7 separate regions of the Homo sapiens genome follow, and all the other regions are linked to region 6. The links come from fine-mapping of genetic effects on gene expression. A gene starts in region 6. Each other region holds a variant in brackets. All regions are shown on one strand. Distances are from middle to middle. Region 1 overlaps GALNT10 (polypeptide N-acetylgalactosaminyltransferase 10). Region 2 overlaps GALNT10 (polypeptide N-acetylgalactosaminyltransferase 10). Region 3 overlaps GALNT10 (polypeptide N-acetylgalactosaminyltransferase 10). Region 4 overlaps GALNT10 (polypeptide N-acetylgalactosaminyltransferase 10). Region 5 overlaps GALNT10 (polypeptide N-acetylgalactosaminyltransferase 10). Region 6 holds the start of GALNT10 (polypeptide N-acetylgalactosaminyltransferase 10). Region 7 overlaps GALNT10 (polypeptide N-acetylgalactosaminyltransferase 10).

Region 1 (4,066 bases), 130 kb after region 6:
TCGATCCGGGTCCCCGACTGATGCCAGTAGGAATCTCTCTCTCCAACTCTTGGCTCTGTTTTCCACTCTGTTAACTTCATTCTGAGGCAAGGAACAGTCCACATGGTTGCCCCAGGCAGACCAGATATATATCCTCCCATGTTCAATCTCAACAGAAAAGAACTTGCGTCTTTCCCAGTTGTCTCAGCAAAGACTTTCTCTGATTTGCAGGTGCCTGTCCTAGAACTACTTATAACGGGGCTGGAGAGGTGACATGCTATGACTGGCTAAGCCAGGCTCCTTTGGCCACCCTCAAGGCAAGGAATGAGTCAGCTCCACCCCAGCCCTATACAGGTGAGGTGTAGGAGATTCCCCAAGGAAAATCGGGTTGCTGCTACCAAGAGAAAGAGAAGAAATGCAGACTTGCCCATTCCCTCATTGACATAAAAGGAAACTGAGGTCCAGCTGGGACCTCAGTTGCATGGATTGTTGACTTGGATTGTTGCATGGCAGAGCAAAGGCTAGAAGCCACGATTTCAAACACCTACTTAGTTTCCTCAATATTTGCTTTTTAGCTAGTCATTCTTTTTTGCTGATACAATTAATAGGATTGATAAATTATCCCTATAAAATACTAATATATATATATATATAAAAGACAGATGGGTTTAAATCTGGACTTCATTCCTTGCCAGCTATTTGACCATAGGCAAGTTTCTTCTCTCTATCTTGTTTCTTCCTCTTTGTAATGAGAATTATATTCCCTACATTGTAAGATTATTTTGACAATTAAATGACTTAATGCATATTAAGTGCCTACAGCACTGTCTGGCATATTGGAAATCCTCAACAGATGTTTTCTATTATTGTCATTGTCACTTTCTGCCTTATTTTTTAACTGCTTATCAGCATTCCATAGTTTGAATTTTTCATCTTTTATTTAATCTTCCCCTATTGGTGGACATTCACTGTTTCTGCTCTTTTCACTATTTCAATGTGTGTCAATCAACATCCCCAATTGTGTGTCTTTGTCCCTGTGCTGTACACCTCTCACTAAGCTTTGCGCATTCAGGGTTGAAACCTAATCAGACCATAAACCAAAGGATAGTGAAAGTGCTTTTGCAACAGAGAAAATGTTTCCACCAACTCTCAGTTGCAAAATTCTAAACTCCACAGAAGTCTCTTCTTTCACAGTACCTTTGGGGGTCAGAAGTATTGATTCAAGAGGGCCTCAACATTGAGGTTGTGTGCTGGAAGTTTCAGACTACCATTGCTTTGACCCTCAGCTGGACCATCACTCTGCCTGGTCCTGACCCCAGAGAGACTCTTCCAAGCACCTCAGGAGGCCACGCTGCATGTGGAAGCCCACAAAGACCTGGATGCCATCTAGGGTGAGGGAAACAGAGGGAGGACACAGAAGAGTCTGTGTGCTTTATGCCATGTTGTAAAAACAAATGCACATGTGCAGAGGAGAACACAGAGAGGACACATCCCAAATGTTTAGCAGAGATCAGCCCCACATGTTAGCGGCAGGACAGTATGTTTGCTATTG[C/T]CAGTTTTCCTTTGAGCCCCTCTGTCTTCCAGACTTTTGTGCTTAGCAATGATCACTTTTGAAATTTTTAAAAAATATTATTTTAAATAAATACTACCTGGATTTGAGGCCTGAATCCAACTCATTTACCCCTCTGAGCTCCATTTTCCTCATCTGGAAAATGGGGTTAACACTCTCTGCTTCATCTCCCTCATTTGAATATGGTACAGATTAGAGGAGAGAGAGGGAAAAGTGCTCTCTAAACTGTCAGGCGTAAGCCATGAGGCAGCAGAGGTTATATTGCCTGGCCCACAGTGGTAGCCATGCCCAGCCTCTTTGCAATGGGAGCAGTGCCCTAGGCCCCTTTCCCTGTGGCTCCTTTCTGAGGACATGTGGACAAAAGGATGCTTCTTGTTTATCATACACAAAAGAACAGGGCACACTCCACCATCCAGTGTTGAGATCCTAAAACACAACATGTAGACAAGTCTTAAGTGGGGCTGCTAAGATGGGAGTGTCACTGGTGTGAGTGGCGGCTTTCTATTTTCTTCTGTGTCGTCCCCAGGTCCCCTTTGTCTGCTGTGATCTGCAGCCTAATAAGAGGCGGAGAAAAGGGGCTTTGCTTGGGCTCTCAACTGGAAGGTGGCTTGTGGGCAGGTCTATAGAGCCAGGTACCCTGCTGGATACTGGAGAGATTAATTTGAGCAGGTCACACAATTTTTTATTTAAACAAAGAACCTCTACTAAGCTGGGACCAAACTAATGACTAGTGCTCATGGCAAAAGTCGAATTTAAGTTTTGTGTTTATTTAGGAAATGAATGGATGGATAGAGGAGGGAGAGAAAGAGAGATCAAAAAAAATTTAAAAGACAGGCACACGTTCAGGGCTGTGATCCAAGCTGAGCCTTTTATTTGAGTTCTGAATAATCTTTAATTCCATGATTGAATTAAATTAGAAGTGAATTTAGTCTATTGTGGCTTTGTCTACTTCCCTTAATGCATGATGGTGTTTGTGTGTCTAACTGCAGGCTGTGGGGCCCGGCTCTGGGCCTGGAGTGAGTGAGGGCTTTCTGCTGTGTAATAGCTATATTGTATTTCACCCGTGGACCCCAGGCAATTTATTATAGCTAACACCCCACCCCGCCCCCAACCCTGCTTCAATCAAGCAAGCCTCCTGTGAAATTAGATGTTAAGGCAGGAACTTTTGTAGAAAACCAGATATCACCAGTCTTTCTTGGCCGCAAAGGATTCAGCTGAGTTAAGGAAAGGGGATTTTTAAGAAGGGGTGGTTTCATTTATTTGTGAAGGCCAACATAATGAAGTTGGAGCAGATTCCCAGAGAATGCTGGATGAAATGATCAAAAGGATTAGAGAGAAGGGGAAAGGGCAGAGGAAGGCTGTGTGGGGACTGGATAAAAAGAGGCCAGCAAGATGGTAAAGCAAGAGAGGATGTGAAGGAAGTCTGGAAGGTCCCAAAGGGAGAGAGGCTGACTTTTCCATCAGAACTGGACTACTGGAATCAGGGGAGTCCTGTTCACACAGCTGGAATGAGCTCTCTGCCAGATGCAACGGTTAAGTCAGGGCAAGGACATATCTTCCCTCCCACAGTTTCCCTTGGTGCCTCTAGCAGAGGTACAATTTGAAACTAAGAAGTCTCTGGACTCTGACCTGTTTTTTCCCTCAGCATTTCTTTCTAAAAATTATCAGACATACAGAAAAATTGAAAGAATTATACAGCGAACACCCATGTTCCCATCATGTCCATAATTAGCATTGGTTTACTTACTTGATCACATCTCTATCTAACCCTCTCTCCACCCCTCAATCCACTATACGTTTTGATGCATTTCAAAGTAAGTTGCAAAGTGACTCCTGCCCATTTTGACAGTTGAACAGTAGATTGCAATGGCATACAAAGAGACTTTGTTGTTACATGCATTGCCCTGAGATGTCACAAGTTTCTCCTCAAAACTTTTTTTTTTTCTCCTTGAGACACGGTCTCGCTCTGTCACCCAGAGTGCAGTGACACAATCTTGGCTCGCTGCAACCTCGTCTGCCTCCCAGGCTCAAATGATCCTCCCACCTCAGCCTCCCAAGTAGCTACAACTACAGGTGCCCACCACTACACCCGGCTAATTGTTTTTTTGTTAGTTTGTTTTTTTTATTTTTGTAGATGAGGTCTCACTATATTGCTTAGGCTGTCTTGAACTCATGAGCTCAAGTGATCCTCCTGCTTCAGCCTCCCAAAGTGTTGCGATTACAGGTGTGAGCCACTGCACCTGGCCACCCCCAGAACTTGTTACCAGTCTCTGGAGCCCCTTCCCTTGATGCTTTTTACTTCCAGGCTCTCAGATTCCAGCATCGCCAGGGATCTGGGAGCTAACATGAGGGAATGAAACAGCTGAAGCTGCCCTGGTGTGAGGCTGTGGTGAGAGCCGAAGTGTCTGGAGAGCACCTGCCCCCTAGACAGCACCTGCCCCCTAGAGAGGGGCACCCACTGTCACCTCCAGCCCATTGCTGTTGCATGAGACTCTGGGGTCAGTGTTGCCCAAGTTT
Region 2 (4,066 bases), 210 kb after region 6:
GTTCTGCCCCGTGAGGGCCCTGCGGGAGCCCTGCCCGCGTCTCTGGCCTCCCCTCCCATCCCTCTTCCCCTTTCTCCCTCTGCTCCTGCCCTGGCTTTCTTTTTGATTATGCCAAGCTTGGCCCTGCCCTGGTGCCTTTGCACTTGCTCTTCTCCCACCCGTTCCCTTGCCTTTACTTTCACCTTCTTGGTTCCACCTCAAACATCCCTTCCGAAGTGAGGCTTTCCCTGACTGGGGAGCATAAAGTAGCATCTCTCACATCCCATACACCCCTACAACGAATCTATGCAATGGCCCTGCTCTGCCATCGCCACCTGAAACCATCTCCCATGTTAGTTACCTATGCCAGGAAAAATTACCCCCAGAATCCATCTTAACACAATACACAGTTATGATGGCAGCGCTTCCCTAGGCCAGGGATTTGGGAGTGGCTTGGTTTGATAGCTCCACCTTGGGTCTCGCATAGGAGAATAGTCAGGCCATGAGCCAGGGCCGCAGTCATCTGCAGGCTTGACTGTGACCACGACCTCTGCTTCTTGGTGGCTCACTGACCTGGCTGGCAAATTAGTGCTGTGGGCAGGAGGCCTCAGCTCTCACCGCATGGACCTCTCCACAGCATGGCTGGGGTGTCCTCAAACATGGCAGCTGGCTCCTCCAAAGCCAGCGGTCCCACAGAGAAAGGTGGAAGCCACGGCATCTTTATGACCGTCATTTCTGCAGTATCCTGTGGGTTACACAGGTCAGTCCTCATGTGACTCACTGGGAGGCATCTACACAGGGGCACAAATACGAGGAGGCAGGGATTGTGAGGCCACTTCGGAGGCTGGGGCCTCGGCTGACTGATTCACTGCTGTGTCCTGAGTATGCACCAGATCTTGTGCTAAACCCTTTTACACACAATATCTCATCTTCCAGTCCTGCCTCCTCTATTTCTTTACAGGAAACTGAGTCTCAGAGAAGTTAAGTACCTTAATCAAAGTCATAAAGTGGGTAAGTGGCTGAGCCAGGATTCAAACCCAGGCCTGCCAAGGAGGGTCTGTGTAGGCCAAAGTCATCAAGTGGGTAAGTGGCTGAGCCAGGATTCAAACCCAGGCCTCCCAAGGAGGGTCTATGTAGGCTGGGCCCCTCAGTGGGTATGAGTCAGTATTGGCTGTACATGTTCACATTCCCAAGTTGCTATCAGACCAGTGGGCAAACTCAGGAGCTCTCTGTGATGTCAAATACTCCTCCCTGGGAGAGGGAGGCAAAGAGAACCATCAGATCCCACACTGCGGCAAGACCCAGCTGCACAGCCTAGCAAGCCAGACTCAGAGAAGGCAGGGCAGGGAGGCTGACGGAACTGCTCAGGGAGACCCAGCGAGAGGCTCATAGATCCAGGAGGAAAATAAATATGTGACAGTAAATCTACGGAACCTGTGTGCCACCTTGACTACTTATGCTGTGGCTGATGTCACTTTGTGATCACCATGGTCTTTCCCACTGATCCCCCGATGCCACCCTAGAATTCTCAACACAGCACTCCATAGTGGATTAGAGCTCAGATTCTGAAGTCAGCTAAAACAGGGTTTAAATTTTGGCTCCACCACTTACTCTGTGACCTGAGTCACATTTCTTAGCTTCTCTGAGCCTCCATTTCAGCATCTGTAAAATGTTACTACCTACTTTATAGGTTTTCTGATGAGGCTTAAGTGTGGTTGTGCATGTGACCATCTTAGCATAGTGTGTGGCAATGGTAAGCACTCAGTGCTGTCAGCTGTTTTTACCGCTGTTATTATATTACTGTGTTTTCCCATGTCATTAGGTCTGTGATCCAGGCTTCAGCAGACAATCCAGGCTGATGCTTTTGCTGAGTGC[A/G]CTAAGGGATGCTGGCCTGGCGGGATGGTGAACTGGAAGCAGAAACGTCATCCTCTCTCTTCCTTCTTGCCATGCAGGTGTGGATGTGTGGGGGCCGCATGGAGGACATCCCCTGCTCCAGGGTGGGCCATATCTACAGGAAGTATGTGCCCTACAAGGTCCCGGCCGGAGTCAGCCTGGCCCGGGTAAGGTGGTGGCTTTCCTTGGCGGGTAGAAGGGGTTGGCCTAGGACCATCAGCTGCACTGAGGCACCCTGGGGCCCTAGACTGTGTTATGTGATCTCTGGGTTTGAGGATGTGCCTCCCATTCTCCAGGTGAAATCTGATTTAAAAGAACTCCCTTAAATCCCTACTTAACCATTCATTGCTATGTGACCTGGGGAGGGTTGCTTAAGTCCTCTGAACCTGTGTTTCCTCCTTTGTTTAAAGAGAGCTAATTCTTTCCAACTCCCAGCATTGCCAGGAGAATTAAGGAGGTGATACTGTTTCCCAGAGTGTGACAGAGGAGACGATCTTAGGCAGCAAACACAGGAATGTTTTCTTGTTCATGTGTTTAAGTTAATGTGGATTCTAAATTAATGTGTATTCGTGTAGCTAACCTGTAATTTCACAGATATTATTACTTAGCATACAGCTAAAGTAGGTGCAAAGTTAGACCAGAGGTGATGTAAAAAAACATGTTAGATAAATATTAATACAGGTGGTGTGGTGTGGTGTGTTTGGGAAAGCTTGCGTACTAAATTTCTGGAGGGGAAGTGGGCTTCATAAATGTCAGTGTCTTTCTCTTCTCCTCACCCCCTGTCTACTCTTACTGCCAAAACCTCTGCATGTCAAACTGTTTCATTGCCTTAAAATGGTTTCTATCAATCATTGCTTCAATTAAATTGGCCACTGGCTGCAAATGGAAATCTGTCAGCCAGAGTTTGTTTTTGGTTTGGATATTAAATGTATTCGGAAAAAAATAAATAAATCCAGGTGACCACAAAAGAAAAATGAAGAGGAGGGAGGGTCCCCAGAGGATAGAAAGAGCCTTGCGGGGAAGCTGGAAAGGACCCCCGCACAGCTTTCCCTCCGGGGAGCCTGTGAGCCCCGCCCCGGCCAGGAGACCCCGGTGCTGGCCGGGTTGGCATTAGACCGCACTGCCTCCTGTCCAGGGCGCTGCCTCCTCCTCCACTTGACAACCTTGACGTGTAGAATTGCAGCCCCCGGGACCTAGAAGAGCGTTGTCCTGTGACTTACAAGGAAAGCCGAGAGGCTCAAAGAGGCCGCGCGTCTCCCTGAGAGCCATCAGTGGGTGGGAGCTGAGCTCCGGGAAGTGTCAGGGGCCGCGTGGAGGGAAAGGAGAGCCGGCAGTGCCCTCCAGTGGTAGCAGAGCCTAACGACGCCCTCACCAGCCATCCGCGCTGCCCACAGCCCCATCCGACACGGGCGGGGGGTAGGTTCTAGGTTCAGTCCCTTGAAGCAGGAATCGCGTTCTTCTGAAAGGCCATTTGGCGATCCCTGAGGAGGGAGCCAGGCAGGAAAAGCGCACGCTCTCTCGGTACGCCCAAGACTGAGACTCTTCCGGCTACAAGGGACCATGGGGACACTCCAACTCCAGACCAGGAGCAACCCTAAAGCATTCTTTTCCTCTGCAGAGCTGTTGTTGATAAGGCTCACCTAAAAATAAAAATAGCCGGGCGCAGTGGTGTGTGCCTGTAGTCCCAACTACTCAGGAAGCTGAGGTGGGAAGATCACTTGGGCCAGGGAGGTCGAGGCTGCAGTGAGCTGTGTGTGCCACTGCACTCCAGCCTGGGTGACAAAACGAGACCATGTCTCAAAGAAAGTTTGTTGTTGTTGTTGTTGCTGTTGTTTTTTTTTTTAAAAGGCCCACCTGATAAAGAGACATTACCGCCTCCTGCTTGTTATAGAACCATTATTATAGATTAATTCAGTGGATAAGAGCTAACTGTAGTAATACTTATAAAAATTCCCTTCGAGCCAGGCATGCAAAGCATTTTACTTATCTCACTTAATTCTCACTTGTTTTTAACCCCATTTTAGGGATGGGGAACATGAAACGTGATGTTGGCGATGGAAACATTAAGTAACTAGTGCCAGAATTCAAACCTGTGTAGGTCTGACAGGTACCTGGCACATAGCAATTGTTCCTTAAACAGTGACTGCTGTTATTAGTGTTAGCATCAATATTAACAATAAAGACTGGAACATGT
Region 3 (4,066 bases), 72 kb after region 6:
GGTGAGGTCAAAGACCTCGGGGGTGTTACTCAAACCCTAAGATCCCTTGAGTCTTATCTGGACTTGTTGCTTTAGGAGATGAGCCCCTTGGACACTAAAGTGCATTCATTCCACAGTTCTGTGTTTAGCACCAAACAAGGGAAAATGTGTTCCATTGCTTTTCTTCCACCAGCTAAGCAGGCCCTAGGTGAGAGTTTTATTCCTACTACCGGAGGTATATATCTCCTGCTGCCTTGGTAGAATGGAAGGAAGGAACCAGAGGTCTCATACCTTCTGTGAATGACACCTGAGGCAAATCCCTAGCCAAGGTTAGGGCCCCACACATGGACTCCCTGTATTTCCCTTAGGAAAGTGGTGCTTACCTGTTATTGTTACTTATTGTCTTCCCTGCCCAGTTGAAAGCTCACAGCAAAAATGCAAAATCCGTACCTATTTAGCTTACGATTGTGCCATCAGGGTCTAGCATAGCACCTGGCACTTGGTGGATGCTTTATGATTATTGCCCCAGAATGAATGAATTAACCTCAGATCTGTGAGCCTTCCTCTGCAAAATGGGAATGATAACATCTATCTGCCCTATTTGGGGATGAAGGAGATAGCATGTATGGAAGAGTCGTGGGATACTCCATAAAAGAGAAGAGATAGTTCATGTGGGTTACTGGTAGTATTACCTTGTAGGCTTTAGCTGTATTGCATTTAGCTCTTCCTAAATTTTCCTTTGACAAGGAATACATTTGAGTTATTTTCGGTAACATTAACTGACAGTATCCTGCCTAGAATGGGAGACCCCTAACATTTAAAGAAATCTCATGTGCATTCCTTTCTCCCGCATTGTAGATTAGGGAGGGGCCCAGACAGGTTGATTTACCTGCCTGGCATCAATGCAGGGAATTTGGCTAAGCCAGAGCTAGGTCACGGGACCCCTCCTTCTGTCCCTCTCAGCTCAGTGCTTCAAATCTTCATTTCTGTTGGAGAAGCTGTAGAGTATTTAATTAGCTACAGTCTGAAATGTGATATATGTCAGCGCTCATTACTGCAGTGGGGCTGGTAGGTATTATTCTCCAGTGCTACACCCCATTGTAGTTCAGTGACCCCAATTAACTCCATCACTCAAGACAGCCCAGCCAGGCAGGCATCACCAAGGGCCACTTGAAGCAGGTACTCAGATTCCCTAGAGTCCATCAGAAACGCTCTTCTCCACCTCAGTCTGACCTGCTGTCCTTCCCCTGAGCCTCCCTGTTGATGCTGAACAGAAGCTTTAAGAGGTTGAGAAGCATTTACCAGGTAAGAGCCACTAGGTCATTGTGCTCAGCACTAAGCTGGGCTCCATTTTATCTCCCTGGAGGCTGCACCCTCAAGACCCTCAAGTTGTCAGTGCAATGGGCAAGAGAAGGGTGCTTTAGGATCCTATCAGAATCAGGAATAAATCCCTCTTCTGAACTAGACCCCATTTTTATTCTTTTAATGTTAACATCAGGAAAGGCAAAAGAAGACTGGTGAATTGGTCCAGATTAAAGAAAATGAAAGACACATGGTAACTAGATATAATGCAGAATCCCTGATTGGATCTTGGTTTGA[GA/G]AAAAAAAAGCTATAAAAGCAATTTAGAGACAGACAATAACAAGTGTTGGCAAGGACGTGGAGAAATTGGAACCCTCAGACATTGCTGGTGGTTCTATAAGTGATGTAGCCACTTTGGAAAACAGTCTGGCAATTCCTTAAAAGGTTAAACACACAGTGACCATATGACCCAGCAGTCCCACTCCTAGGTATATACCCAAGAGAAATGGAAACAGATGGCCACAGAAAAACTTGTACATGAGTGTTTATAGCAGCATTATTTATAGTAGACAAAAGGTGGGAACAACTGAAATGTCTACTTATGAGTGGATTTATAAAATATGTGTATATATACCGACTGTGGAATATTATTCAGCTGTAAAAAGGAATGAAGTACTGATACACACTACAACATGGATGAACCTTGAAAACGTTATACTACGTGAAAGAAGCCAGACACAAAGACCACGTATTGCATGATTCCATTTATACGGAATATCCAGAATAGGCAAATCCCTGGAGATGGAAAGTAGATTTATGGTTTCTAAGGGCTCAGGGGAGGGAGAAGGGGAGTGACTGATTGTCTTAGTCTATTCAGACTGCTATATCAAAAGACCACAAACTAGATAGCTTATAAACAACAGAAATTTATTTCTCACATTCCTGGAAGCTGGGAAGTCCAGGAGCAAGGCAGTGGCAGATTCAGTGTCTGATGAGGGCCCGCTTTCTAGTTCGTAGACGGTGCCTTCTTATTTGTGCCCTTACATAGTAGAAAGGATGAGCAATCTCTCTAGGGTCTTATTTCTAAGGGCACTAATCCAAGCCCTCATGACCCAATCACTCCCAAAGGCCCTACCTCCTAATACCATTACCTTTGGATTTGAATTTCAACATATGAATTCCAGAGGGGACACAAACATTCACACCATAGCACTCATAATGGGTACAGAGTTTCTTTTTAGGATGATGAAAATAATCTGAAATTAGATAGCGTTGATGTTTATACAACTTTATAAGAATACTAAAAAACACTGAATTGTATGCTTTAAAAGGGTAAATTTTGTGTTATGTGATTTATATGTCACTTTTAAAAAGGCTGGGTGTGATGGCTTATACCTGTAATCCCAGTACTTTGAGAGGCTGAGGCGGGCAGATCACTTGAGGCCAGGAGTTGGAGACCAGCCTGGCCAATGTGGCAAAACGCCATCTCTACTAAATATACAAAAATTAGCCAGACGCAGTGGTGCATGCCTGTAATCCCAGCTACTTGGAAGGTGGAGGCATGAGAATCCCTTGAACCTGGGAGGCGGAGGTTGCAGTGAGCTGAGATCATGCCACTGCACTCCAGCCTGGGAGACAGAGCAAGACTCTGTCTCCAAAAAAAAAAAAAAAAAGTGATTTGGGGGACAATGGGAAACCTGAATATGGAGTATGTATTAGATAATAATTTATATCAATGTGATAATAGAATTGTGGTTATATAGGAGAATGTTCCTTTGCTCGACAGATGCATGCTGAAGTACTCAGTGACCAAGCATTATGATATCTGCAGTTTACTTCCATGTGACTCAGAAAAAAAATGTATATAATGTATATATAGGCAGACAGCAAATGCGGTAAAATATTAACAATCGGTAAATCTTGGTGAGTAAGAAGAGTAAATCTTTTTACTCTTTTTAAAACTTTTCTATTGAAATTGTTCAAAATTGTAGGCTAACACATAGTATTTTTACAAGACAATGAGGTGGAATTTTTAGAATACCAAGAGACAGAGATAAGTCAAAGGGCTTTTGGCTGTCCACAGTGACCCTTTGGTCTCTGTCCAAGACAAGGATAAATGAACACTTGTTTCCTCTTTTCTTGGATGAAATCAATTGCATTTCTAAGCCGTACAGACCCCCACTTAGCAGTTCTCAGAGAGTGCCTGAAATCTACAGCCCAATACTGTGGGCTCTTCATGCCAACTGTCAAAAGAGTGGGCTTTCTTATGACTTCCAGTGGGCCAGAAATTATAGCCAATGGGAACACCAGTCAGAGCTCCCTTCCTGACCTCATTCTAGGATCATTCCAGGGGCAGTAGTTAGGCTGACTTTCTTTACCAGTCTCTAAGGGAAACACTAAAATAGCCAGCGAGCGTAATTTCTGGAGAGACAGATTTCTTGATGAGTATTCTAAACCTTACATGTTCTCCCCTTCTTGCAGTATTTATAGTTTGGGAATGGATGTAGGGAGCCTTGTGGTAACATATCAAGACTTTAGTTCCCTGTTCCCCTTCCCCCAGACAATCAGCAGGGTGTCATGCAGTCTTGAAGGAAAATTTGTGCACATCCCTTCCAGAACAAAGGGTGAAACCCTACTTGAGAACAGTAGACCTGGAAGGGACCTCAGGAAATAAGGGACCTCAGAATGTCTTCAATTTCCTGATGCTGACAAGGCCTTTCACAAGAGAAGCCCACTGATTTCACACCTCATGGCTACCCAGGAAATACACTCAGGAGCATTTGCAAA
Region 4 (4,066 bases), 56 kb after region 6:
TGGATCAAGTTTCTACTGTGAGCCCAGAGGGCAAAGCTGGGACTGGTGAGATTGGGGGAGTTCAGTGCTTATCCGTGTAATAAGTTAGTTAAGAGTGTTTTCTCTATGCTGGAGGACTGCCCAGGATGGAGTGATAATCCGGCAGACAGCAAGGGTGGCAGATGTGAAAACACGTGAGCCCAGTAAAGGGGAACAGGTGCTGTGAGAGAAGCAAAGGCAGCAGCCAGAGAGGGCAAAAAGCAGGGGCAGCCACTTCAGCCTGGAACCAGGTCTCAAGGAGGTATCACTGCTGGGGTATATCTTCAAAGATGAATGTGTGTTTTCTAGGCAAATGGAGGTTGGGACTTTCCCAGCAGAGAGAACACAGCACAGTATGAAAAGTTCACCATTTTTGGTGGTCTCAAAACTCCTTAAGTGTGGAACATGGAGTTGAGGGGAGACCTAGATGTAAGATAGAGATTGGGGGTGCTGATCACCAGGGGCCTGTGGGTTCTTCCTTGGAGCTGAAGTCCATGGGGTGCCACTGCAGGGATTCTGGAAGCTCATGCAGCAAAATGAGCTGCACAGCTTTGCAATTTAGAAAGCTCACTGGGCTGTCAGCCTGGAAAGCAGGCTGGAATGGACACTGGAGTCCAGGAGAGCTGTTGAAGACTTGTGTGGTGATGCAAGGGGGTGGAGATGACAACTAGAGCCACCATGGTGGCAGTGAGGATGGGCATGCAAAGACAAGGATGAGAGGACAGAAGAGTCCAAGAGGTGGAGTCAGCACGACTTGGTCACCAGTCGGATACGGGGAGGTGAGGGACAGGTGATGTTGAGGCTAGCAATGACAGCTGTTGTGCATTGAGCACTTAGCTATGTGCCCTGCATGGTGCTAAGCACCTGACATGGGTGATCTCATTTTATCCTCACCAGTGGGTACTACCCCTGTAAGCTTGCTCTACCCATGTCACAGCTGAGAAAACTAGCTCAGAAAGGTTCAAACTTGTCCTCAGGTCACAGTGAATGAGTCATATAGCTGGGACTCCGAGCTCTGGCTTTTTTTTTTTAATTATATAGTCGTCCTTTAATAAATTCTACCTTTTGAACACTTTTATCACTTTGTGATCTTCATATATTAATACATTAATATATGTAAGCCACAATCAGAGGGGAGAATCTAAGCATTTAGTCTACCAGGTAATGATGAAAAGAGGATGTGTATGATTAATTCATTTGAAATATTATGGACGTCAATAAACAATGGAAATGGTAAGCATCTGGGATAAAAGTGGGCCTGGCCAGGGATGTCTGGTGATATCTTAAGCGCTTTTTTTTTTTTTTTTTACTTTAAGTTTTAGGGTACATGTGCACAACGTGCAGGTTTGTTACATATATATACATGTGCCATGTTGGTGTGCTGCACCCATTAACTCGTCATTTAACATTAGGTATATCTCCTAATGCTATCCCTCCCCACTCCCCCCACCCCACAACAGGCCCCAGAGTGTGATGTTCCCCTTCCTGTGTCCATGTGTTCTCATTGTTCAATTCCCACCTATGAGTGACAACATGCGGTGTTTTTTTTTTTGTCCTTGCGATAGTTTGCTGAGAATGATGGTTTCCAGTTTCATCCGTGTCCCTACAAAGGACATGAATTCATC[A/AT]TTTTTTTTGGCTGCATAGTATTCCATGGTGTATATGTGCCACATTTTCTTAATCCAGTCTATCATTGTTGGACATTTGAGTTGGTTCCAAGTCTTTGCTATTGTGAATAGTGCTGCAATAAACATACGTGTGCATGTGTCTTTATAACAGCATGATTTATAGTCCTTTGGGTATATACCCAGTAATGGGATGGCTGGGTCAAATGGTATTTCCAGTTCTAGATCCCTGAGGAATCGCCACACTGTCTTCCACAATGGTTGAACTAGTTTACAGTCCCACCAACAGTGCAAAAATGTTCCTATTTCTCCACATCCTCTCCAGCACCTGTTGTTTCCTGACTTTTTAATGATTGCCATTCTAACTGGTGTGAGATGTTATCTGATTGTGGTTTTGATTTCCATTTCTCTGATGGCCAGTGATGATGAGCATTTTTTAATGTGCCTTTTGGCTGTATAAATGTCTTCTTTTGAGAAGTGTCTGTTCATATCCTTCGACCACTTTTTGATGGGGTTGTTTGTTTTTTTCTTGTAAATTTATCTGAGTTCATTGTAGATTCTGGATATTAGCCCTTTGTCAGATGAGTAGATTGCAAACATTTTCTCCCATTCTGTAGGTTGCCTGTTCACTCTGATGGTAGTTTCTTTTGCTGTGCAGAAGCTCTTTAGTTTAATTAGATCCCATTTGTCAATTTTGGCTTTTGTTGCCATTGCTTTTGGTGTTTTAGACATGAAGTCCTTGCCCATGCCTACGTCTTGAATGGTATTGCCTAGGTTTTCTTCTAGGGTTTTTATGGTTTTAGGTCTAACATTTAAGTCTTTAATCCATCTTGAATTAATTTTTGTATAAGGTGTAAGGAAGGGATCCAGTTTCAGCTTTCTCCATATGGCTAGCCAGTTTTCCCAGCACCATGTATTAAATAGGGAATGCTTTCCCCATTTCTTGTTTTTGTCAGGTTTGTCAAAGATCAGATAGTTGTAGATATGTGGCATTATTTCTGAGGGCACTGTTCTGTTCCATTGGTCTATATCTCTGTTTTGGTACCAGTATCACGCTGTTTTGGTTACTGTAGCCTTGTAGTATAGTTTGAAGTCAGGTAGCATGATGCCTCCAGCTTTGTTCTTTTGGCTTAGGATTGACTTGGCAATGCGGGCTCTTTTTTGGGTCCATATGAACTTTAAAGTAGTTTTTTCCAATTCTGTGAAGAAAGTCATTGGTAGCTTGATGGGGATGGCATTGAATCTATCAATTACCTTGGGCAGTATGGCCATTTTCATGATAATTGATTCTTCCTACCCGTGAGCATGGAATGTTCTTCTATTTGTTTGTATCCTCTTTTATTTCATTGAGCAGTCGTTTGTAGTTGTCCTTGAAGAGGTCCTTCACATCCTTGTAAGTTGGATTCCTAGGTATTTTATTCTCTTTGAAGCAATTGTGAATGGGAGTTCACTCATGATTTGGCTCTCTGTTTGTCTGTTATTGGTGTATATAAGAATGCTTGTGATTTTTGCACATTGATTTTGTATCCTGAGACTTTGCTGAAGTTGCTTATCAGCTTAAGGAGATTTTGGGCTGAGACGATGGGGTTTTCTAGATATACAATTGTGTCATCTGCAAAAAGGGACAATTTGACTTCCTCTTTTCCTAATTGAATACCTTTATTTCTTTCTCCTGCCTGATTGCCCTGGCCAGAATTTCCAGCACTATGTTGAATAGGAGTGGTGAGAGAGGGCATCCCTGTCTTGTGGCAGTTTTCAAAGGGAATGCTTCCAGTTTTTGCCCATTCAGTATGATATTGGCTGTGGGTTTGTCATAAATAGCTCTTATTATTTTGAGATACGTCCCATCAATACCTAATTTATTGAGAGTTTTTAGCATGAAGGGCTGTTGAATTTTGTCAAAGGCCTTTTCTGCATCTATTGAGATAATCATGTGGTTTTTGTCGTTGATTCTATTTATATGCTGGATTACATTTATTGATTTTCCTATGTTGAACCAGCCTTGCATCCCAGGGATGAAGCCACTTGATCATGGTGGATAAGCTTTTTGATGTGCTGCTGGATTCGGTTTGCCAGTATTTTATTGAGGATTTTTGCATTGATGTTCATCAGGGATATTGGTCTAAAATTCTCTTTTTTTGTTGCGTCTCTGCCAGGCTTTGGTATCAGGATGATGCTGGCCTCATAAAATGAGTTAGGGAGGATTCCCTCTTTTTCTATTGATTGGAATAGTTTCAGAAGGAATGGTAACAGCTCCTCCTTGTACCTCTGGTAGAATTCAGCTGTGAATCCATCTGGTCCTGGACTTTTTTTGGTTGGTAAGCTATTAATTATTGCCTCAATTTCAGAGCCTGTATTGGTCTATTCAGAGATTCAACTTCTTCCTGGTTTAGTCTTGGGAGGGTGTATGTGTTGAGGAATTTATC
Region 5 (4,066 bases), 93 kb after region 6:
AGCGTATTTGGTCACAGTTCCTGAGGCTGGGAAGTCCGAGATCAAGGGTAGCATCAGGTGAGGGCTTTCTTGCTGCGATATAAGGTGGTAGAAAGCATCACATGGGTGAGAGAGATGGTTGGGACCAAATTCATCCTTTATAAGGATGCTGCTCTCACAGTAATTAACCCACTCTCTCCATAACAGCATTAATCCATTCGTCAGGGCAGAGCTCTCATGAGCTAATCACATCTTAAAGGTTCCACCTCCCAATACTGTTGCACTGGGGATTCAGTTTCCAACACACAAACTTTGGGGATCATGCTCAAACCATAGCAGGCTACCATGCAGCTCCTCCACTCGCCTCTCATTGACAGAACCCAATCAAGCCACATCTAGCTACAAGGATGTCAGGAAAATATCATCTTTATTCTGAGCAATCATATTCCCAGCTAAAATTCTTATTACTGTGGAAGAAAAGAACAGCTCCTAGGGGATATACAGCAATTTCTGCCACAAGCCTTAGTTAGGAATCCAGAAAGGAAACCATTTGAAAATGAAAGAAGGAAGAAGGTGGAAGAGTTCAAAGCCTGTTGCATCTTTTTAAAAATTATTTTAGGATCAGGTGAGCCAGCTCTCTTTTGAGCTTTGTAGCCCATTAAGTTGACCTGAAGCCATTTAGTCATAGGATAAAGTCAATCCTCAGAACCCTTTTATGGTATTAAATCTTTGGACTATATTAGACATGTCTAATCCTTGAGTGACCTTTCCTTCATCTGGAAAAGATAAAAGATGTCTCCACTCATTCATTCATTATTCATTCATTCAACAGAAATTGATGTCTTCTCATAGAGCTCACAATTTGGGGAGAGATAGACAATATTCAAATGATCATCCAAATGAATGTGAAGTCACAAAGGAGCAGTGAGGATGCTGTAAGGTCCCATATCAGGGGCAGTGATCTAGCCAGAGGGGTTAGGGAAGCTTGCCTGAGGGTTTAGATGATTCCTGTGGGAGCATCTGCATTCATAGCAGTTTGCTGTGGTCTGGGAAGACTGTCCTTTGTGCTCTCTTGTGGTTGCACCTCACACATCCTGCCTGGGACACCATATATCTAAGAAATCGTTATATAAGAACAAGAGAGGCTGGGCATGATGGCTCACGCCTGTAATCTCAGCACTTTGGGAGTCCCAGGTGGGACGATCACCTAAGGCCAGGAGGTTGAGACCAACCTGGGCAACATAATAAGACCTCGTCTGTAAAAAAAAAAAAAAAAAAAAAAGCCAGGTGTGGTGGTGCATGTACCTGTAGTCTTAGTTTCTTGGGAGGCTGAGGCAGGAGGATTGCTTGAGCCCAGGAGGTCAAGGCTGGAGCTGCAGTGAGCTATCATCATGCTACTGCAAGCCAGCCTGGGCAGCAGAGCAAGATCCTATCTCTTAAAAAAAATAAATAAATAAAAACAAGAATACCAGAGTGACAGAGTGAGAGTGAGGTGGGATAGGTAAGGGGCTGGGTGCTGCCCAGGAGATTCAGAGCCTTTTGTGGCCTCCACCCTAAGAGAAACAAAGAAGAAGAGTTCAGAGAGTTCTCAGTTTCCAAGATGGGAGATGGAGGAGGCCAACATCATTGTCCAGGCAGAGACTTTCCTCCTGGGCCAGGAAGGAGTCCAAAGAGGAGGGGACTACCATCAGTCACATGTTGCTTCCCCATGCCCCTACCCCTCTCCCCCTCTTGGGGGACCTTTGCAAGCAGTGAGCAGCCAGCCAGCCCAAAGAGCCAAGATTGTGGAAATCAACCAGTGGGTCATTGTCTACCAGGTGTACTTGGAAATTCACTCTTCCAGCTTAAGGCAGCTGTGGCAGATGGGTCCTGTCCCCTGACCAATGCCAGCTGATGGGTAAGCGCTGCTTGGAGCACAGTGTTGAGAAAGATTCTCAAAGTCTGGGATCCACAAGGAAGGATATTACAATAGGTTGGTGATGTCTGCTTTTA[C/T]CCTGGTGCAACTGAGAGGAAGGAATGGGACATAAATATAAAAATGCTTTGTAAATTATAAAATACTACCAAATAGTAACTAATAATGGTAGCTAGCATTGCTAGTGCTTTCTAGATACCAAACACTGCTAAGAGCTATACTTGCTGCATCTCATTTAATCCTCATAATAACCTTTATGCTAGGTACTATTAATTTCCCCCATTTTACAGTTGGGAAACCAAGGCTTGTGAAAATAGCGTAACTTGCCCAAGATCACAGAGCTAATAAACAGAACTGTGGCACAAGCCTAGGCATTTCTGATGCCAAAGCAGATGGTCTTCTTCACTTTGGTCTGCTGTCTTCAGAATGTAGGGGATTATGATTATAATTATTACTATTATTAGAGCAAGTACTTTATTACTGCGTGGCTCAACCCTACTTACCCAGCTAGGAGATTAATAGGATGTGTTTGCAGTCATTTTTTAGTCTCTCTCTGAAAAGTAGGAACTTGCCTTCTGATGAGCTTTCCAGTTCCTTTTTTTCTTTTTACCCATCCACAGCTGCTGTGCAGAGCAATATTGCAGCCCTTGCTCCTGCCCAGCCCGTCAAGCCTCTAAGAAGAGCACTTTCTAGGGGCTTTCCTGTGATTGATCACACATCAGCTAGACTGAGATTTTCAAAACCTCTTGTGAATTGCCCTCTTGGTACAGAAGTATGATTCATCTCAGCACGTTTTCCATATTTGAGGGCTATGTTCCTGCAGCCTTTCTAGATACTGAGTTTGGGAAGGAATGGGCAGGTACATGTGGTAGGTGCTATTAGCTGTGATGATTACACTCATGTGGTGGTTGGCAGTTTGCAAAACGCTTTCATATCGATTTTCTCTCCAAGCCTCAGTTTTGTCATCTACAAAGTGGATATAATGACGATAATAATATAGTCAAGTCTAATCTCATGAAAGAGTTAGGCTATAATAAACCCACCACTTAAGGTGAAAATAACACAAAATCAGAATCACCCTTGACAATCGCTCATGGAATATGAAGACACACCACCTCTCAAAAGTCCAGTGTGGGCAGTTTTAAATCCAGCTTGAACACCAGTGATAACTGTTTCTTTGGTTGAAGTAATCACAGTGCCTTCTGAGGTAATGAAAATACTTATCTTCCTAGAGTAGGCTCCCCCAGCACAGAGCGCTCACACTTCCAGGGGCCAGAGAGAACTGGGGCCTCCAGGGACACTGTGAGGGCAAAGGCACACTCTGCATGAGCACGGGAGGCTCACCACCACCCTTGTAGGATTTCTCTCTTCTTTCTTGACTATGTGTCACTGAATTCTTGAAGGTGAAATAGACATAAAATCCTATCTCATTAGGTCTGATCTCCTGACTTGCTTTCTATGGACAGTATTGAAACTTAAAAGTAACATGTGATGACACAGACACCAGGCTAGGTGAGGGGAGAGCTGGGCTCAGGTCCCAGGTGGGTTTCACCTGCATCTGTGGGACTATTGATATCCAGCTCTTACAGATGAACTTCTCACCTGACTGTCCAAGTTCTCAGGCTCTATTTCTTGACTCAAACCCACAGGACCCTAGTAACCCTATTTTTAAAAAAAATCTGTGTGTGCCCACCCCTACTTCTGCCTTCCCAGCATAAGCTAACATCATCTCTGCCTGCACCACTGTGATAGCCTCCTTCCCAGCCTCCACCCCTCCTCTTGGCCTCCTAATCCCTTTTCCACTTGGCTACAAGAGAGCTTTCCAAATGCAACCTGATCTTATCACCTCCTTATAGAAAACACTTGTATTTCTAAATGCTCCTGGAGGAAAGACAGAATCCTCACCCCTGTCCACCTCTCATTCCTACCAGACTTTCCCTGCTTCTCTGTGCACCACACACACTGCTCTTCCAGGCCCTCCTATGATTCATGTTTGCTCAGCCACAGAATCTTTGCATATCTTTACTTTTCCCTCTGTCTGGAATGCTGTGTACTCCTCTTTCTACTGAGTTAACCTGTAATCCAATTTTCTCAAGAAAACCTTGCAGGCTGGATCAGATCCCCCCAGTCTGATCTGAAAGAAAGGGACTATCTTTGTACCATGTACCCCTCTTT
Region 6 (4,066 bases):
ATGTACCTCACAGGGTAACTGTGAGCATTTAAAGAGGTAATGCATCTCAAGGGCTGCCTGACATAGAGTAAGCACTCAATAAAAGGTAAGCATTATTGTGATGGAAATCTAAAGAAAGAAAACAGTTCCCTGAGGAGGAGTTTTAGAAGGCTTCGTGGAGGAGGTGGCAGTTTAACTAGACACGGAAGGATGAACAAGATTTCCACCGACCTAGAGAAGGGGGTTTTATGGGTAGAAGGAGCTGCGTGGTCAACAGCACAAGAAGGAAAACACAAAGCCTGCAACAGGCTAAGCGAAGCTCAGGGCAGGGCAGGGCAGGGCACGGCAGGAGACAGAACGTTTGATCAGCCCTAGCAGGTCATAGGAGAGGAGCATGATGGACTCTAGAGCCGAGGTGATGGAAGCCTTGAAGGTTTTGCTGCAGAAATCAAGAACTGAGCTGTGATGTCAGAAAACTGAATCCCCATCGCTCAGCCTGGAGCTGGAAGAACTTGGAGGCAAGAGTTGCCAGAACGCTGGTCAAGGACTAGTGGCAGCTAGGCACGAAGGTCAGCGGCTGAGCTAGAGAAGCAGAGAATCAAGAGGACGAATGTGGGGGTGGCAGAGAGTAAGGTAGCCAAGGGGGTGCTCCGTTCCACCGCATCAGGGAGGAGGCAGCTAAGTGACCAGCGTCGAGCGCCCCGAGGAGGAGCCGCTGGCTGGCATCACCGTCGGAGTCCGGCTCCACGGCCCTCCGCATCGCCCAGAAGCCCGACTCCTCTGTCAAAGCCCTCGCCACAGTTACAGACACATTGCCTGGTCTAGTGAAATTACGTGTTTCATGTTTCAGCTCCCAGACGTCAGGGCTCAGGTCTGTTTTCATTTCATCCCAGAGCCTGGCACAGTGTTTGGCACATAGTGGCGCTCGCCAACGGTTTGCTGAGAGCTTTCCGGGAAGGGCTCAGTGCGCTTAGGATCCAAAAGCACGCGTGAGAATGCAGGGCATTCTAACTCCAAGGGGGTTGGACTTGCGTGAGGAAAGGTGCTGCAGAGAGGCTACCGTCACTTACCCACCCGCCGGTTTGCAGGATCTACAGACGGGCGGCGGCCGGGCACAGCTCCCTACAGTTTGCAGAGGGCGTTCACACCTAACGCCAGGGCCCCCCTAGAGGAAGAAAACCAGGGCCCGCCCGCGGAACAGTGAGCGTGCAGCACGGCTGTGGCCCCGTTTCATGGCCGGGAACACCGAGTCGCCGGGGTCAAAGTAGGTCCGCAGGTCCTGGGGGCCGAGCCTAGGTGGGCTGGAAGTGACAGCCCCGGGGGCTCCAGGCTCAGAACGCCCGGCGGGGCCCCAGCACTATTTGCATATCCCCAGGGAGGCAGCAAAGGTTCGGCTGCAGTCCCGGGCGGAGGTTGCCGGGCGGGGCGGCAGGGTACCCGGGCGAGCGGACATGCACCCCACCCAGCGGTGCCCAGCCCGCACCAGTTAGCGCCCAACTCGCCAACTCCGGGACTTTCGCAAAGCTCCAGAGGGCGGGGGAGCCGCCGAGGAGTGGGACGGACCATCGCGGCTCGAGAGGGGGGAAGCGCTCCGGCCCGGCATCCTGCAGCGCCCGGGCGGGCCGAGACGCTCCGTGAGAGGGCCGAGCCTGCAGCGCAGAGACTCGGCGGTCGACGCGGGGGCAGGCGGCGCGGGGCGGGCGGCTCGGCGGGGCCCGGGGGCGGTGGCGGCGGCGACGACCCCCTCGTGGCGGCGGCGTGGTGGCGGCGCCCAGCTCCCCGGCCGGCGAGCGGCGGAAGTGCCGCGGAGTTGGAGCGGGGCCGGCGCCGCAGCCGCTTCTGCTGGCTGAGCTGCTGCCGCCGCCGGGCGGACGGGCGGACGCGCGGAGCTGGGGGCGGCGCGGCGGGGCCGGCGGGGCGCGGCGGGGCTGACCGGCCCCGATGAGGCGGAAGGAGAAGCGGCTCCTGCAGGCGGTGGCGCTGGTGCTGGCGGCCCTGGTCCTCCTGCCCAACGTGGGGCTTTGGGCGCTGTACCGCGAGCGGCAGCCCGACGGCACCCCTGGGGGATCGGGGGCGGCGGTGGCGCCGGCGGCGGGACAGGTGAGTCCCCCCGTTGCTACAGGCCGGGAACACCCCCTTCCCGAATTCACTTTTAGCCTGTGGTTCCTTCCTCCACCTTCTGCTGTCTGCCTCCTCAGAGTCAGCTCCGAGACTCTTCAGCTCTTCCCATTTTCCGGATGGGAAAATTAAGTCCTGTCGGGACTTGTCCAGGGTCCCACGCCAGTCAGAGACTGAGTCCGAACTAGCACTCAGGACGCTATTTCTCACCACATGTTACCACCTTCCTTTCTGTCCCCGTCTGGTATTCCTTGACGTCTTCCAGCGGATCTCTTTTGAAGGATCCTATCTGCATCCCTGTATCCCAGGATGACTCCTGCCTTGTGCCAATAGGAATGAAGATTCTGGTTCTTCTATTTGGTGTCCAGGTCCTCTCTGCTTCCCTCCTCCCACCCCCCCCCCCCCACAACCCCTACCTGCTGATCCCAGTGTTCTTTGCTCAGGTCAGCCCTTTTCCTGATTTCTCATCTGCCCAACGAGACACCCGGGCCTTCCTCCTCTCCCCATTTATTCAACACCCCCGCCCCAACTCTAGCCTTTTCCTTTCTCAGATCCTGTGGATTCCTTGCAGAATGTAAAGATCATGCTCCCTTTAAAGCTTCAAGCCCCTGGGGGTGGAGAAGGGGGTAAGCTCCTGGTCCTTGAGGGACCTGCTGCCTTTGACCTTATGGGAGTCCAGAGGTGGGGCTCTGGTGGGGGGACCCCCAAAATGTCCCAGAGGCTATTGGTGCCCAGTGTCCTGAGGATGGAACACCAGAAGCCTTCCCTATCTCTTCTGAACTTGTCTAGTCTGGTTAGTTGTAGTGTTTATTGCAGCCAAAACTGGGATCGGAATGGTTTCTGCCTCCTTTGAACTTACCCACGTATGTTTGTGTGTATGTGTGCGTGCACGCATTTAGACTAGCAGCTCCCTCATAGCAGAAGCTCTGTCACATCACTCCCACCCTCCCAGGAGGTGCTAGTGAGTGTATTGCTTAGACTGTTTCATATAGTGGAACATTTCAGGCTTTCTTACGGGATTTCTCTGGTCCCATGAGAAGTGGATAATTTGTGTATCAGGGTCAGACTTGACTGACTGTTGGCTGGCCTCGACGAAAGAGGCTGGCTTTTCTGAGATTGATGGTTTTCCTTATTCTTCCCAGTATCAGGCTGCTGTCTAGGCAGTCTGGCATCTGGAGCACAGAGGGCTCTTTGCTACAGAGCTGACCAATTTGAGCTCCGCCTGTAACTCTGTTAATTGCTGCAAAGCATCCCAGAGGGTCTCATTGATCTTTCTGGTAGAGCTTACTGTTTAGAAACTAAGGTTTCCATCTCTTTCCTAAACCCCTGGTTCAAACCCTGACAGCTAGCTTAGACCTCTCTCCCTGAAATTCTGTATCTGTATGGATTTTCCGTTCATGAAATCTCTTTCCTCTGTTCCTATTCAGTACCAGCATCAGAGTCAGGAGTTCCAGGGTTCTGACCTCAGCTCTACCACTAACTTACTGTGTGTGTCCTTGATCACCTTTCATCTCCTTTTCTGAGCCTTACTTTCTTGGTCTGTAAACCATGATTATTGGTCCAGTTCTAACATTCTGTGATACTATCAGTTAATCAATGAGGAATACAACGGTCCCTTCTTTTTTTCTGTCTTGAGTCCAGAGTTCCTTGTAGCATCCCTAGCTGTGGAGGCTCCATACTGGACACAGCTCCAGGTCAAGGGGGAGTGTCCTACCCTAGTGCAAACTCTCCTTTAGAATAGCTGTAGCCCATTCTAAAATAGTGCTTGACATTCTGCCTCTGCTTGGAGAAAGACCTCGTATTTCATTTGCAATAGATGCCAAAGACATCCTGATTTTCATTTCTGTAGACCCAGATGGGTAGAGAAGGTCAAGGTTAACTGCCAGTTTGGCCTGAGCTTTCAAAGTAAATTACTCACTTGTGCAAGAGGGTATTGATAGAGTAAGGCAGACTTTTGGGCAGGGAGAGA
Region 7 (4,066 bases), 210 kb after region 6:
AAAATGGAGATTGGTCTGAGGGTTCCATGAGGCAGGCTTGCAGGAGCAAGGGAGTGATAGAAAGCCATGTGAGGGGACGAGAGGGAGGACACCCTCCCCTGCAGAAGTCAGGAAGGTCTTTGAGCTTGTTCTGAGAGGAAAACCCATTCTCTGGGTAGAGGAATGAAGACTCAGAGGAGACTGGGGTTCGCTTTGTGTGATACTGATATGGTTACTGAAAGGCTAGCCCAGTCCCAGGCTACGTGAACAGACTTAAAAAAAAAAAAAAAAAAACTCTGATTTTTTTTTTCCCATAAAACTCAGTGTTATCAAGAAGACTAAGTGAAACAGGACGTGTGAAAAGAAGGCAGGACACACCCAGAAGCTGAGCAAGGGTGATATTGCAACCTGGCCCAGAGCGGTTAGGTGACTGGGCAGGGTCCCTCCACCGGAAGGTGGCAGTGCCAAGGCTAAATCCCAGATGCCCTGGCTCCAAGCCCAGTGCTCATCTCATTCCGCCTGGTGGTAGGAGTAGAGAAAAGGTGTATCCAGTCTAAAGAGAGGCCCGTGTTCCAGGAAGGGCCCAGAGGTCAGGACCAGCCCTGAGAGGGGTTAAGTTGCCACACAGGAGGGAGAAATGATTGCCAAAGGCCAGCCCAAGCACCAGAAGGATATCCAGGGCCACCATCAGGCAACTATATGGCAATACATTTCCCCATCCTTTTCCCTGCCCCTACCAGCACCCTCTGCCTCGGACAGCTGCAGCATGGCTGCCAGGAACCTGGTCCTCATTTCTTCCTTTCCCTGTGTTATCCAAGGATGATGGAAATATGCTCTGATACATGCAGCATTTTCGTCCTGGGGCCACATATGCCCAGCCTTTGCAAGAGCCGTCTGCTAGAAACAGGGAAGGCATTCTGCTCATGACTCTCGGCAAGTCATTTGAAATTCCATGAGTGTCCCTGCCTGTGGAGCCTGCTTCTCCCACCACTCCTCCAAGGAGACGGCTCAAAGGCCCGAGGGTCGCCTGTGTGTATGTTACTCCCTAACCAGCACACACCTACCTCATGGTGCCTTGGCTCTTTCATCCCTAAAAGTGGTAATAAAATAACTTCTTCAAAAGTTTGTTGTAAGAACTAAATGGGATGATATGTATATTTGGCCTAGAGCTAACCAAAGAGGAGGCACTCAATAAGTGGCAGCTGTTCTGATCATAACCCTCAGGTAAGGAGGCAGAACAGCACAGTATTACACAGATGGGCTTCAGCATCAAACTGCCTGGGTTCTAGTGCAAATTCAATGAGCTAGCTGCTGTGTGACTTTGGGAAAGTGACTTAACCTCTCCTCTTTATATTATTTAGGGGATGGAATAATCTTTACTTCATAGTGCAGTCGTGAGCATGATATGAGCCAAAATATATTAAAAGCTTAGCTCAGTGCCTGGAACATAATAAATGTTCGCTAAATGATAGCTGTTAATGTCAGCATGGTTGTGGTTATTGTGATCGGGCTGTGGTTGCAGGAAGACAAGAGTGGAAAGAGGCTGGCAAGACAGGTCAAAAGGCCTTGGCTCTAGGCCCTGTTCTGGAACAAACTCTCTGTGAGATCTTGGACTCATCTGCCCTTTCTCCTGAACTTTTATTTCGCCATCTACAGAGGGGCACCAATCATCCCAAATTCACAGGGCTGTTAGGAAATATAGTGTGAACTGGCAGGCACAGTCACCTGAGACGCTGTCACCATTCCAGTACGCGGTGGCTCCCAAGGTGTGAACCCTGGACGAGCAGCATTAGCATCACCGGGGAACTTATTAGAAATGCAAATTACCAGGCTCCACCCCAGGCTGCTGAGTCAGAGGCTGCCGTGGAGCCCAGCCAGCTGTGTTTCAACATGCCCTGCAGGTGCTTCCGATGAGGCCCAAGGTTGAAAATCGCAGCTGTAATGAATAGGTGGGAGGTTGTGCAGAGAGGATGCTCAGGCGTGGGTGTGGAAGGACAGAGTAAATGGGCAGGTTGGTTGGCAGGTTGGCCAACAAGTTCCAATACCTTCACCCGGCTTTCAAGGCTCTGTATCTTTGGTCCACCCTTGGCAGTTC[G/A]TTTCTGTTCCATTTTTTCCAGCATGGTTTTTAGAACAAACCTGACCAATGACCAGATCATGTATGAATGAATGAATGAATGAATGAATGAATTAGGTAATTAATGTTTGTTTGGGGTTTCAACAGTCACAGAAAGAAAAATTCACAAGCCCCCAGGGCAGAAAAGTGAATGCATTGCGGCCAGTTGTCAGCAGCATCCACATAGGGAGTCCAGCGGGTATGGAGAGGGTAGGAGGTGATAGGTGGGAGCAGGTGGCAGAGGGCCTGATTGCAAGCCAAGGGTGACCCCTTTGTTCTGCAGACAATACAAGTGCTGTTAGGGATCTTTGAGGAAGACCATGATAGGGTGGGTCCAGACCTTAGGAAAACACAGTCTCTGTGGAACTCTCAGATCTGCCTAGTTCTGACCCAACCCCAGGTTCCATTTTGGGTTCTGCCATTTATGCACTGGGCAACCCTGGGGAAAGTGTTAATTAAACCTCGGTTTCCTCATGTGTAAAGGGTGTGATCATGCCTCCCTCGCTGGGTTGCTGTGAGATTGCTGTATTTCCAAATCTGAGTCAAAACCTAATGTAAAGTAACCATCTCGCCCTTGTTGGGGAAGTAACTAACTATAAACACTTAAGGATATTGTTGAGATAGTCCTATGTTTAATTTATTAATTTAGATGCACATATGCTTAAAACTGTATCATATAAAAATACTAGGCTGGGCGCGGTGGCTCACACCTGTAATTCCAGCATTTGGGGAGGCCAAGGAGGGTGGATCACTAGAGGTCAGGAGTTCGAGACCAGCCTGACCAACATGGGGAAAACCTGTCTCTACTAAAAATACAAAAATCAGCTGGGCATGGTGGTGGGCACCTGTAATCCCAGCTACTCGGGAGGCTGAGGCAGGAGAATCACTTGAACCTGGGAGCCGGAGGTTGCAGTGAACCGAGATTGTGCCATTGTACTCCATCCTGGGCAACAGAGCAAGACTCCGTCTCAAAAAAAAAAAAAATACAGCTTAAATTTAGAAGTAAATTTAAAACTAAAGTTGTTCTTTTCTACTTTTTTTTTTTTTTTTACCAGCTGCATCCAGTAAACATCCAAAACCAGCATGACTGAGGTTGTCCTTTCATGGTGGTGATACTTCTTGAAACAATATCTTGTTGAAAACAAACTAATACATTCAAAATAATATGAGTTTCTTTTCAGCCGGGAATTGTGTAGCATTCATGCAACGCCCTCCACCAGTAGCGATGGGCCACGTGCCCACAGGACACCATATGGATAGCTCACGGTGTCCTCTGAGCTTCTACATTACCTCATTTTAGCCTCACCACAACCCTAAGGAGGTAGGCACAGTAATTTTTCCCATTTTGCAGAGGAGGAAACTGAGGCTTTCAGACTTATAAAACTTGCTTAACAGCCTGTGTGGGACCTCAATTCTAATTCCAGAACCAAGCTCCTAACTGCTACCCTATGTGCCTCCTAAGCACACAGTGAATGCTGAATGATTGGTGGCAATTATTAGTATAGTCTTTCCCCCAAATGCAACTGATTAGGGTTTGAACTTCATAGGGGTCCTCAGCTGAGATGCCAACGGCAAAAGCCGTGGCCAGCTGCCAGTCTTTTCCTTATCTCTGGGCAGGTCGGGTGCCGTGCCATTCCTGGCTAGCTTCCAGGCAGCCATTTCCTCAACAGAGAGAAGCTCTGCCCCAGCCCCTGCCCTCTCGGGTTCCCCTCCATGGACAATCCCTTCCACTGCGCCCTTCTTTCTGGGTCCCATTGTGTTTTCCCAATGCACATCACCACTCGTTTCTTTCCCCCTCAGTTTAGGAGATAAGAGCGGGTAATTGTCTTTTATAGGCACTGTAATGAAGCCTGTCATCACACAAAAGAAGTTTGCTAATAAAATAAATCAAAGCAGCAATGAAAATGAATGGGGAACAGGCTTTCACAATTAGATTTGTACTTGTCTAGAGGCATGGTGCTTCTATGAGAAGAC

What was found. PIP is the estimated chance that this variant, and not a neighbour inherited with it, causes the effect.
Region 1: its variant is fine-mapped to the expression of GALNT10 in whole blood (TOPMed, PIP 0.98).
Region 2: its variant is fine-mapped to the expression of GALNT10 in whole blood (TOPMed, PIP above 0.99). The same link has a PIP of 0.9 or more in blood mononuclear cells and spleen.
Region 3: its variant is fine-mapped to the expression of GALNT10 in whole blood (INTERVAL, PIP 0.97).
Region 4: its variant is fine-mapped to the expression of GALNT10 in ovary (GTEx, PIP 0.95).
Region 5: its variant is fine-mapped to the expression of GALNT10 in whole blood (TOPMed, PIP above 0.99).
Region 7: its variant is fine-mapped to the expression of GALNT10 in whole blood (TOPMed, PIP above 0.99).

The regions. Positions count from the first base shown.
Region 1 is chr5:154,317,829-154,321,894 of GRCh38, forward strand. All of the region lies in intron 3 of GALNT10 (polypeptide N-acetylgalactosaminyltransferase 10), which reads left to right. Among named protein-coding and RNA genes, the nearest start is that of MIR1294, 27 kb to the right of the region's middle. RefSeq lists a silencer at 1,070-1,189. The variant C/T (reference allele first, on the strand shown) is at 1,532.
Region 2 is chr5:154,402,173-154,406,238 of GRCh38, forward strand. It overlaps GALNT10 (polypeptide N-acetylgalactosaminyltransferase 10), which reads left to right. Exons shown (of 12, transcript NM_198321.4): 8 at 1,932-2,039. The region is part of intron 2 of SAP30L-AS1 (SAP30L and GALNT10 antisense RNA 1); the gene reads right to left. Among named protein-coding and RNA genes, the nearest start is that of SAP30L-AS1, 42 kb to the right of the region's middle. RefSeq lists a silencer at 3,172-3,221. The variant A/G (reference allele first, on the strand shown) is at 1,855.
Region 3 is chr5:154,261,379-154,265,444 of GRCh38, forward strand. All of the region lies in intron 1 of GALNT10 (polypeptide N-acetylgalactosaminyltransferase 10), which reads left to right. Among named protein-coding and RNA genes, the nearest start is that of GALNT10, 73 kb to the left of the region's middle. The variant GA/G (reference allele first, on the strand shown) is at 1,579.
Region 4 is chr5:154,244,500-154,248,565 of GRCh38, forward strand. All of the region lies in intron 1 of GALNT10 (polypeptide N-acetylgalactosaminyltransferase 10), which reads left to right. Among named protein-coding and RNA genes, the nearest start is that of GALNT10, 56 kb to the left of the region's middle. RefSeq lists a silencer at 144-193. The variant A/AT (reference allele first, on the strand shown) is at 1,644.
Region 5 is chr5:154,282,040-154,286,105 of GRCh38, forward strand. All of the region lies in intron 1 of GALNT10 (polypeptide N-acetylgalactosaminyltransferase 10), which reads left to right. Among named protein-coding and RNA genes, the nearest start is that of MIR1294, 63 kb to the right of the region's middle. RefSeq lists a silencer at 3,650-3,944. The variant C/T (reference allele first, on the strand shown) is at 1,972.
Region 6 is chr5:154,188,947-154,193,012 of GRCh38, forward strand. It overlaps GALNT10 (polypeptide N-acetylgalactosaminyltransferase 10), which reads left to right and starts at 1,787. Exons shown (of 12, transcript NM_198321.4): 1 at 1,787-2,079. The coding sequence starts at 1,921. LOC124901118 (a long non-coding RNA gene) reads right to left here and starts at 1,133. Exons shown (of 2, transcript XR_007059010.1): 1 at 1,050-1,133. RefSeq lists an enhancer at 197-1,162 and silencers at 1,383-1,472, 1,563-1,662, 1,673-1,782, 1,873-1,952, 2,023-2,082.
Region 7 is chr5:154,394,065-154,398,130 of GRCh38, forward strand. The region is part of intron 7 of GALNT10 (polypeptide N-acetylgalactosaminyltransferase 10); the gene reads left to right. All of the region lies in intron 2 of SAP30L-AS1 (SAP30L and GALNT10 antisense RNA 1), which reads right to left. Among named protein-coding and RNA genes, the nearest start is that of MIR1294, 49 kb to the left of the region's middle. RefSeq lists an enhancer at 1,643-2,363. The variant G/A (reference allele first, on the strand shown) is at 2,075.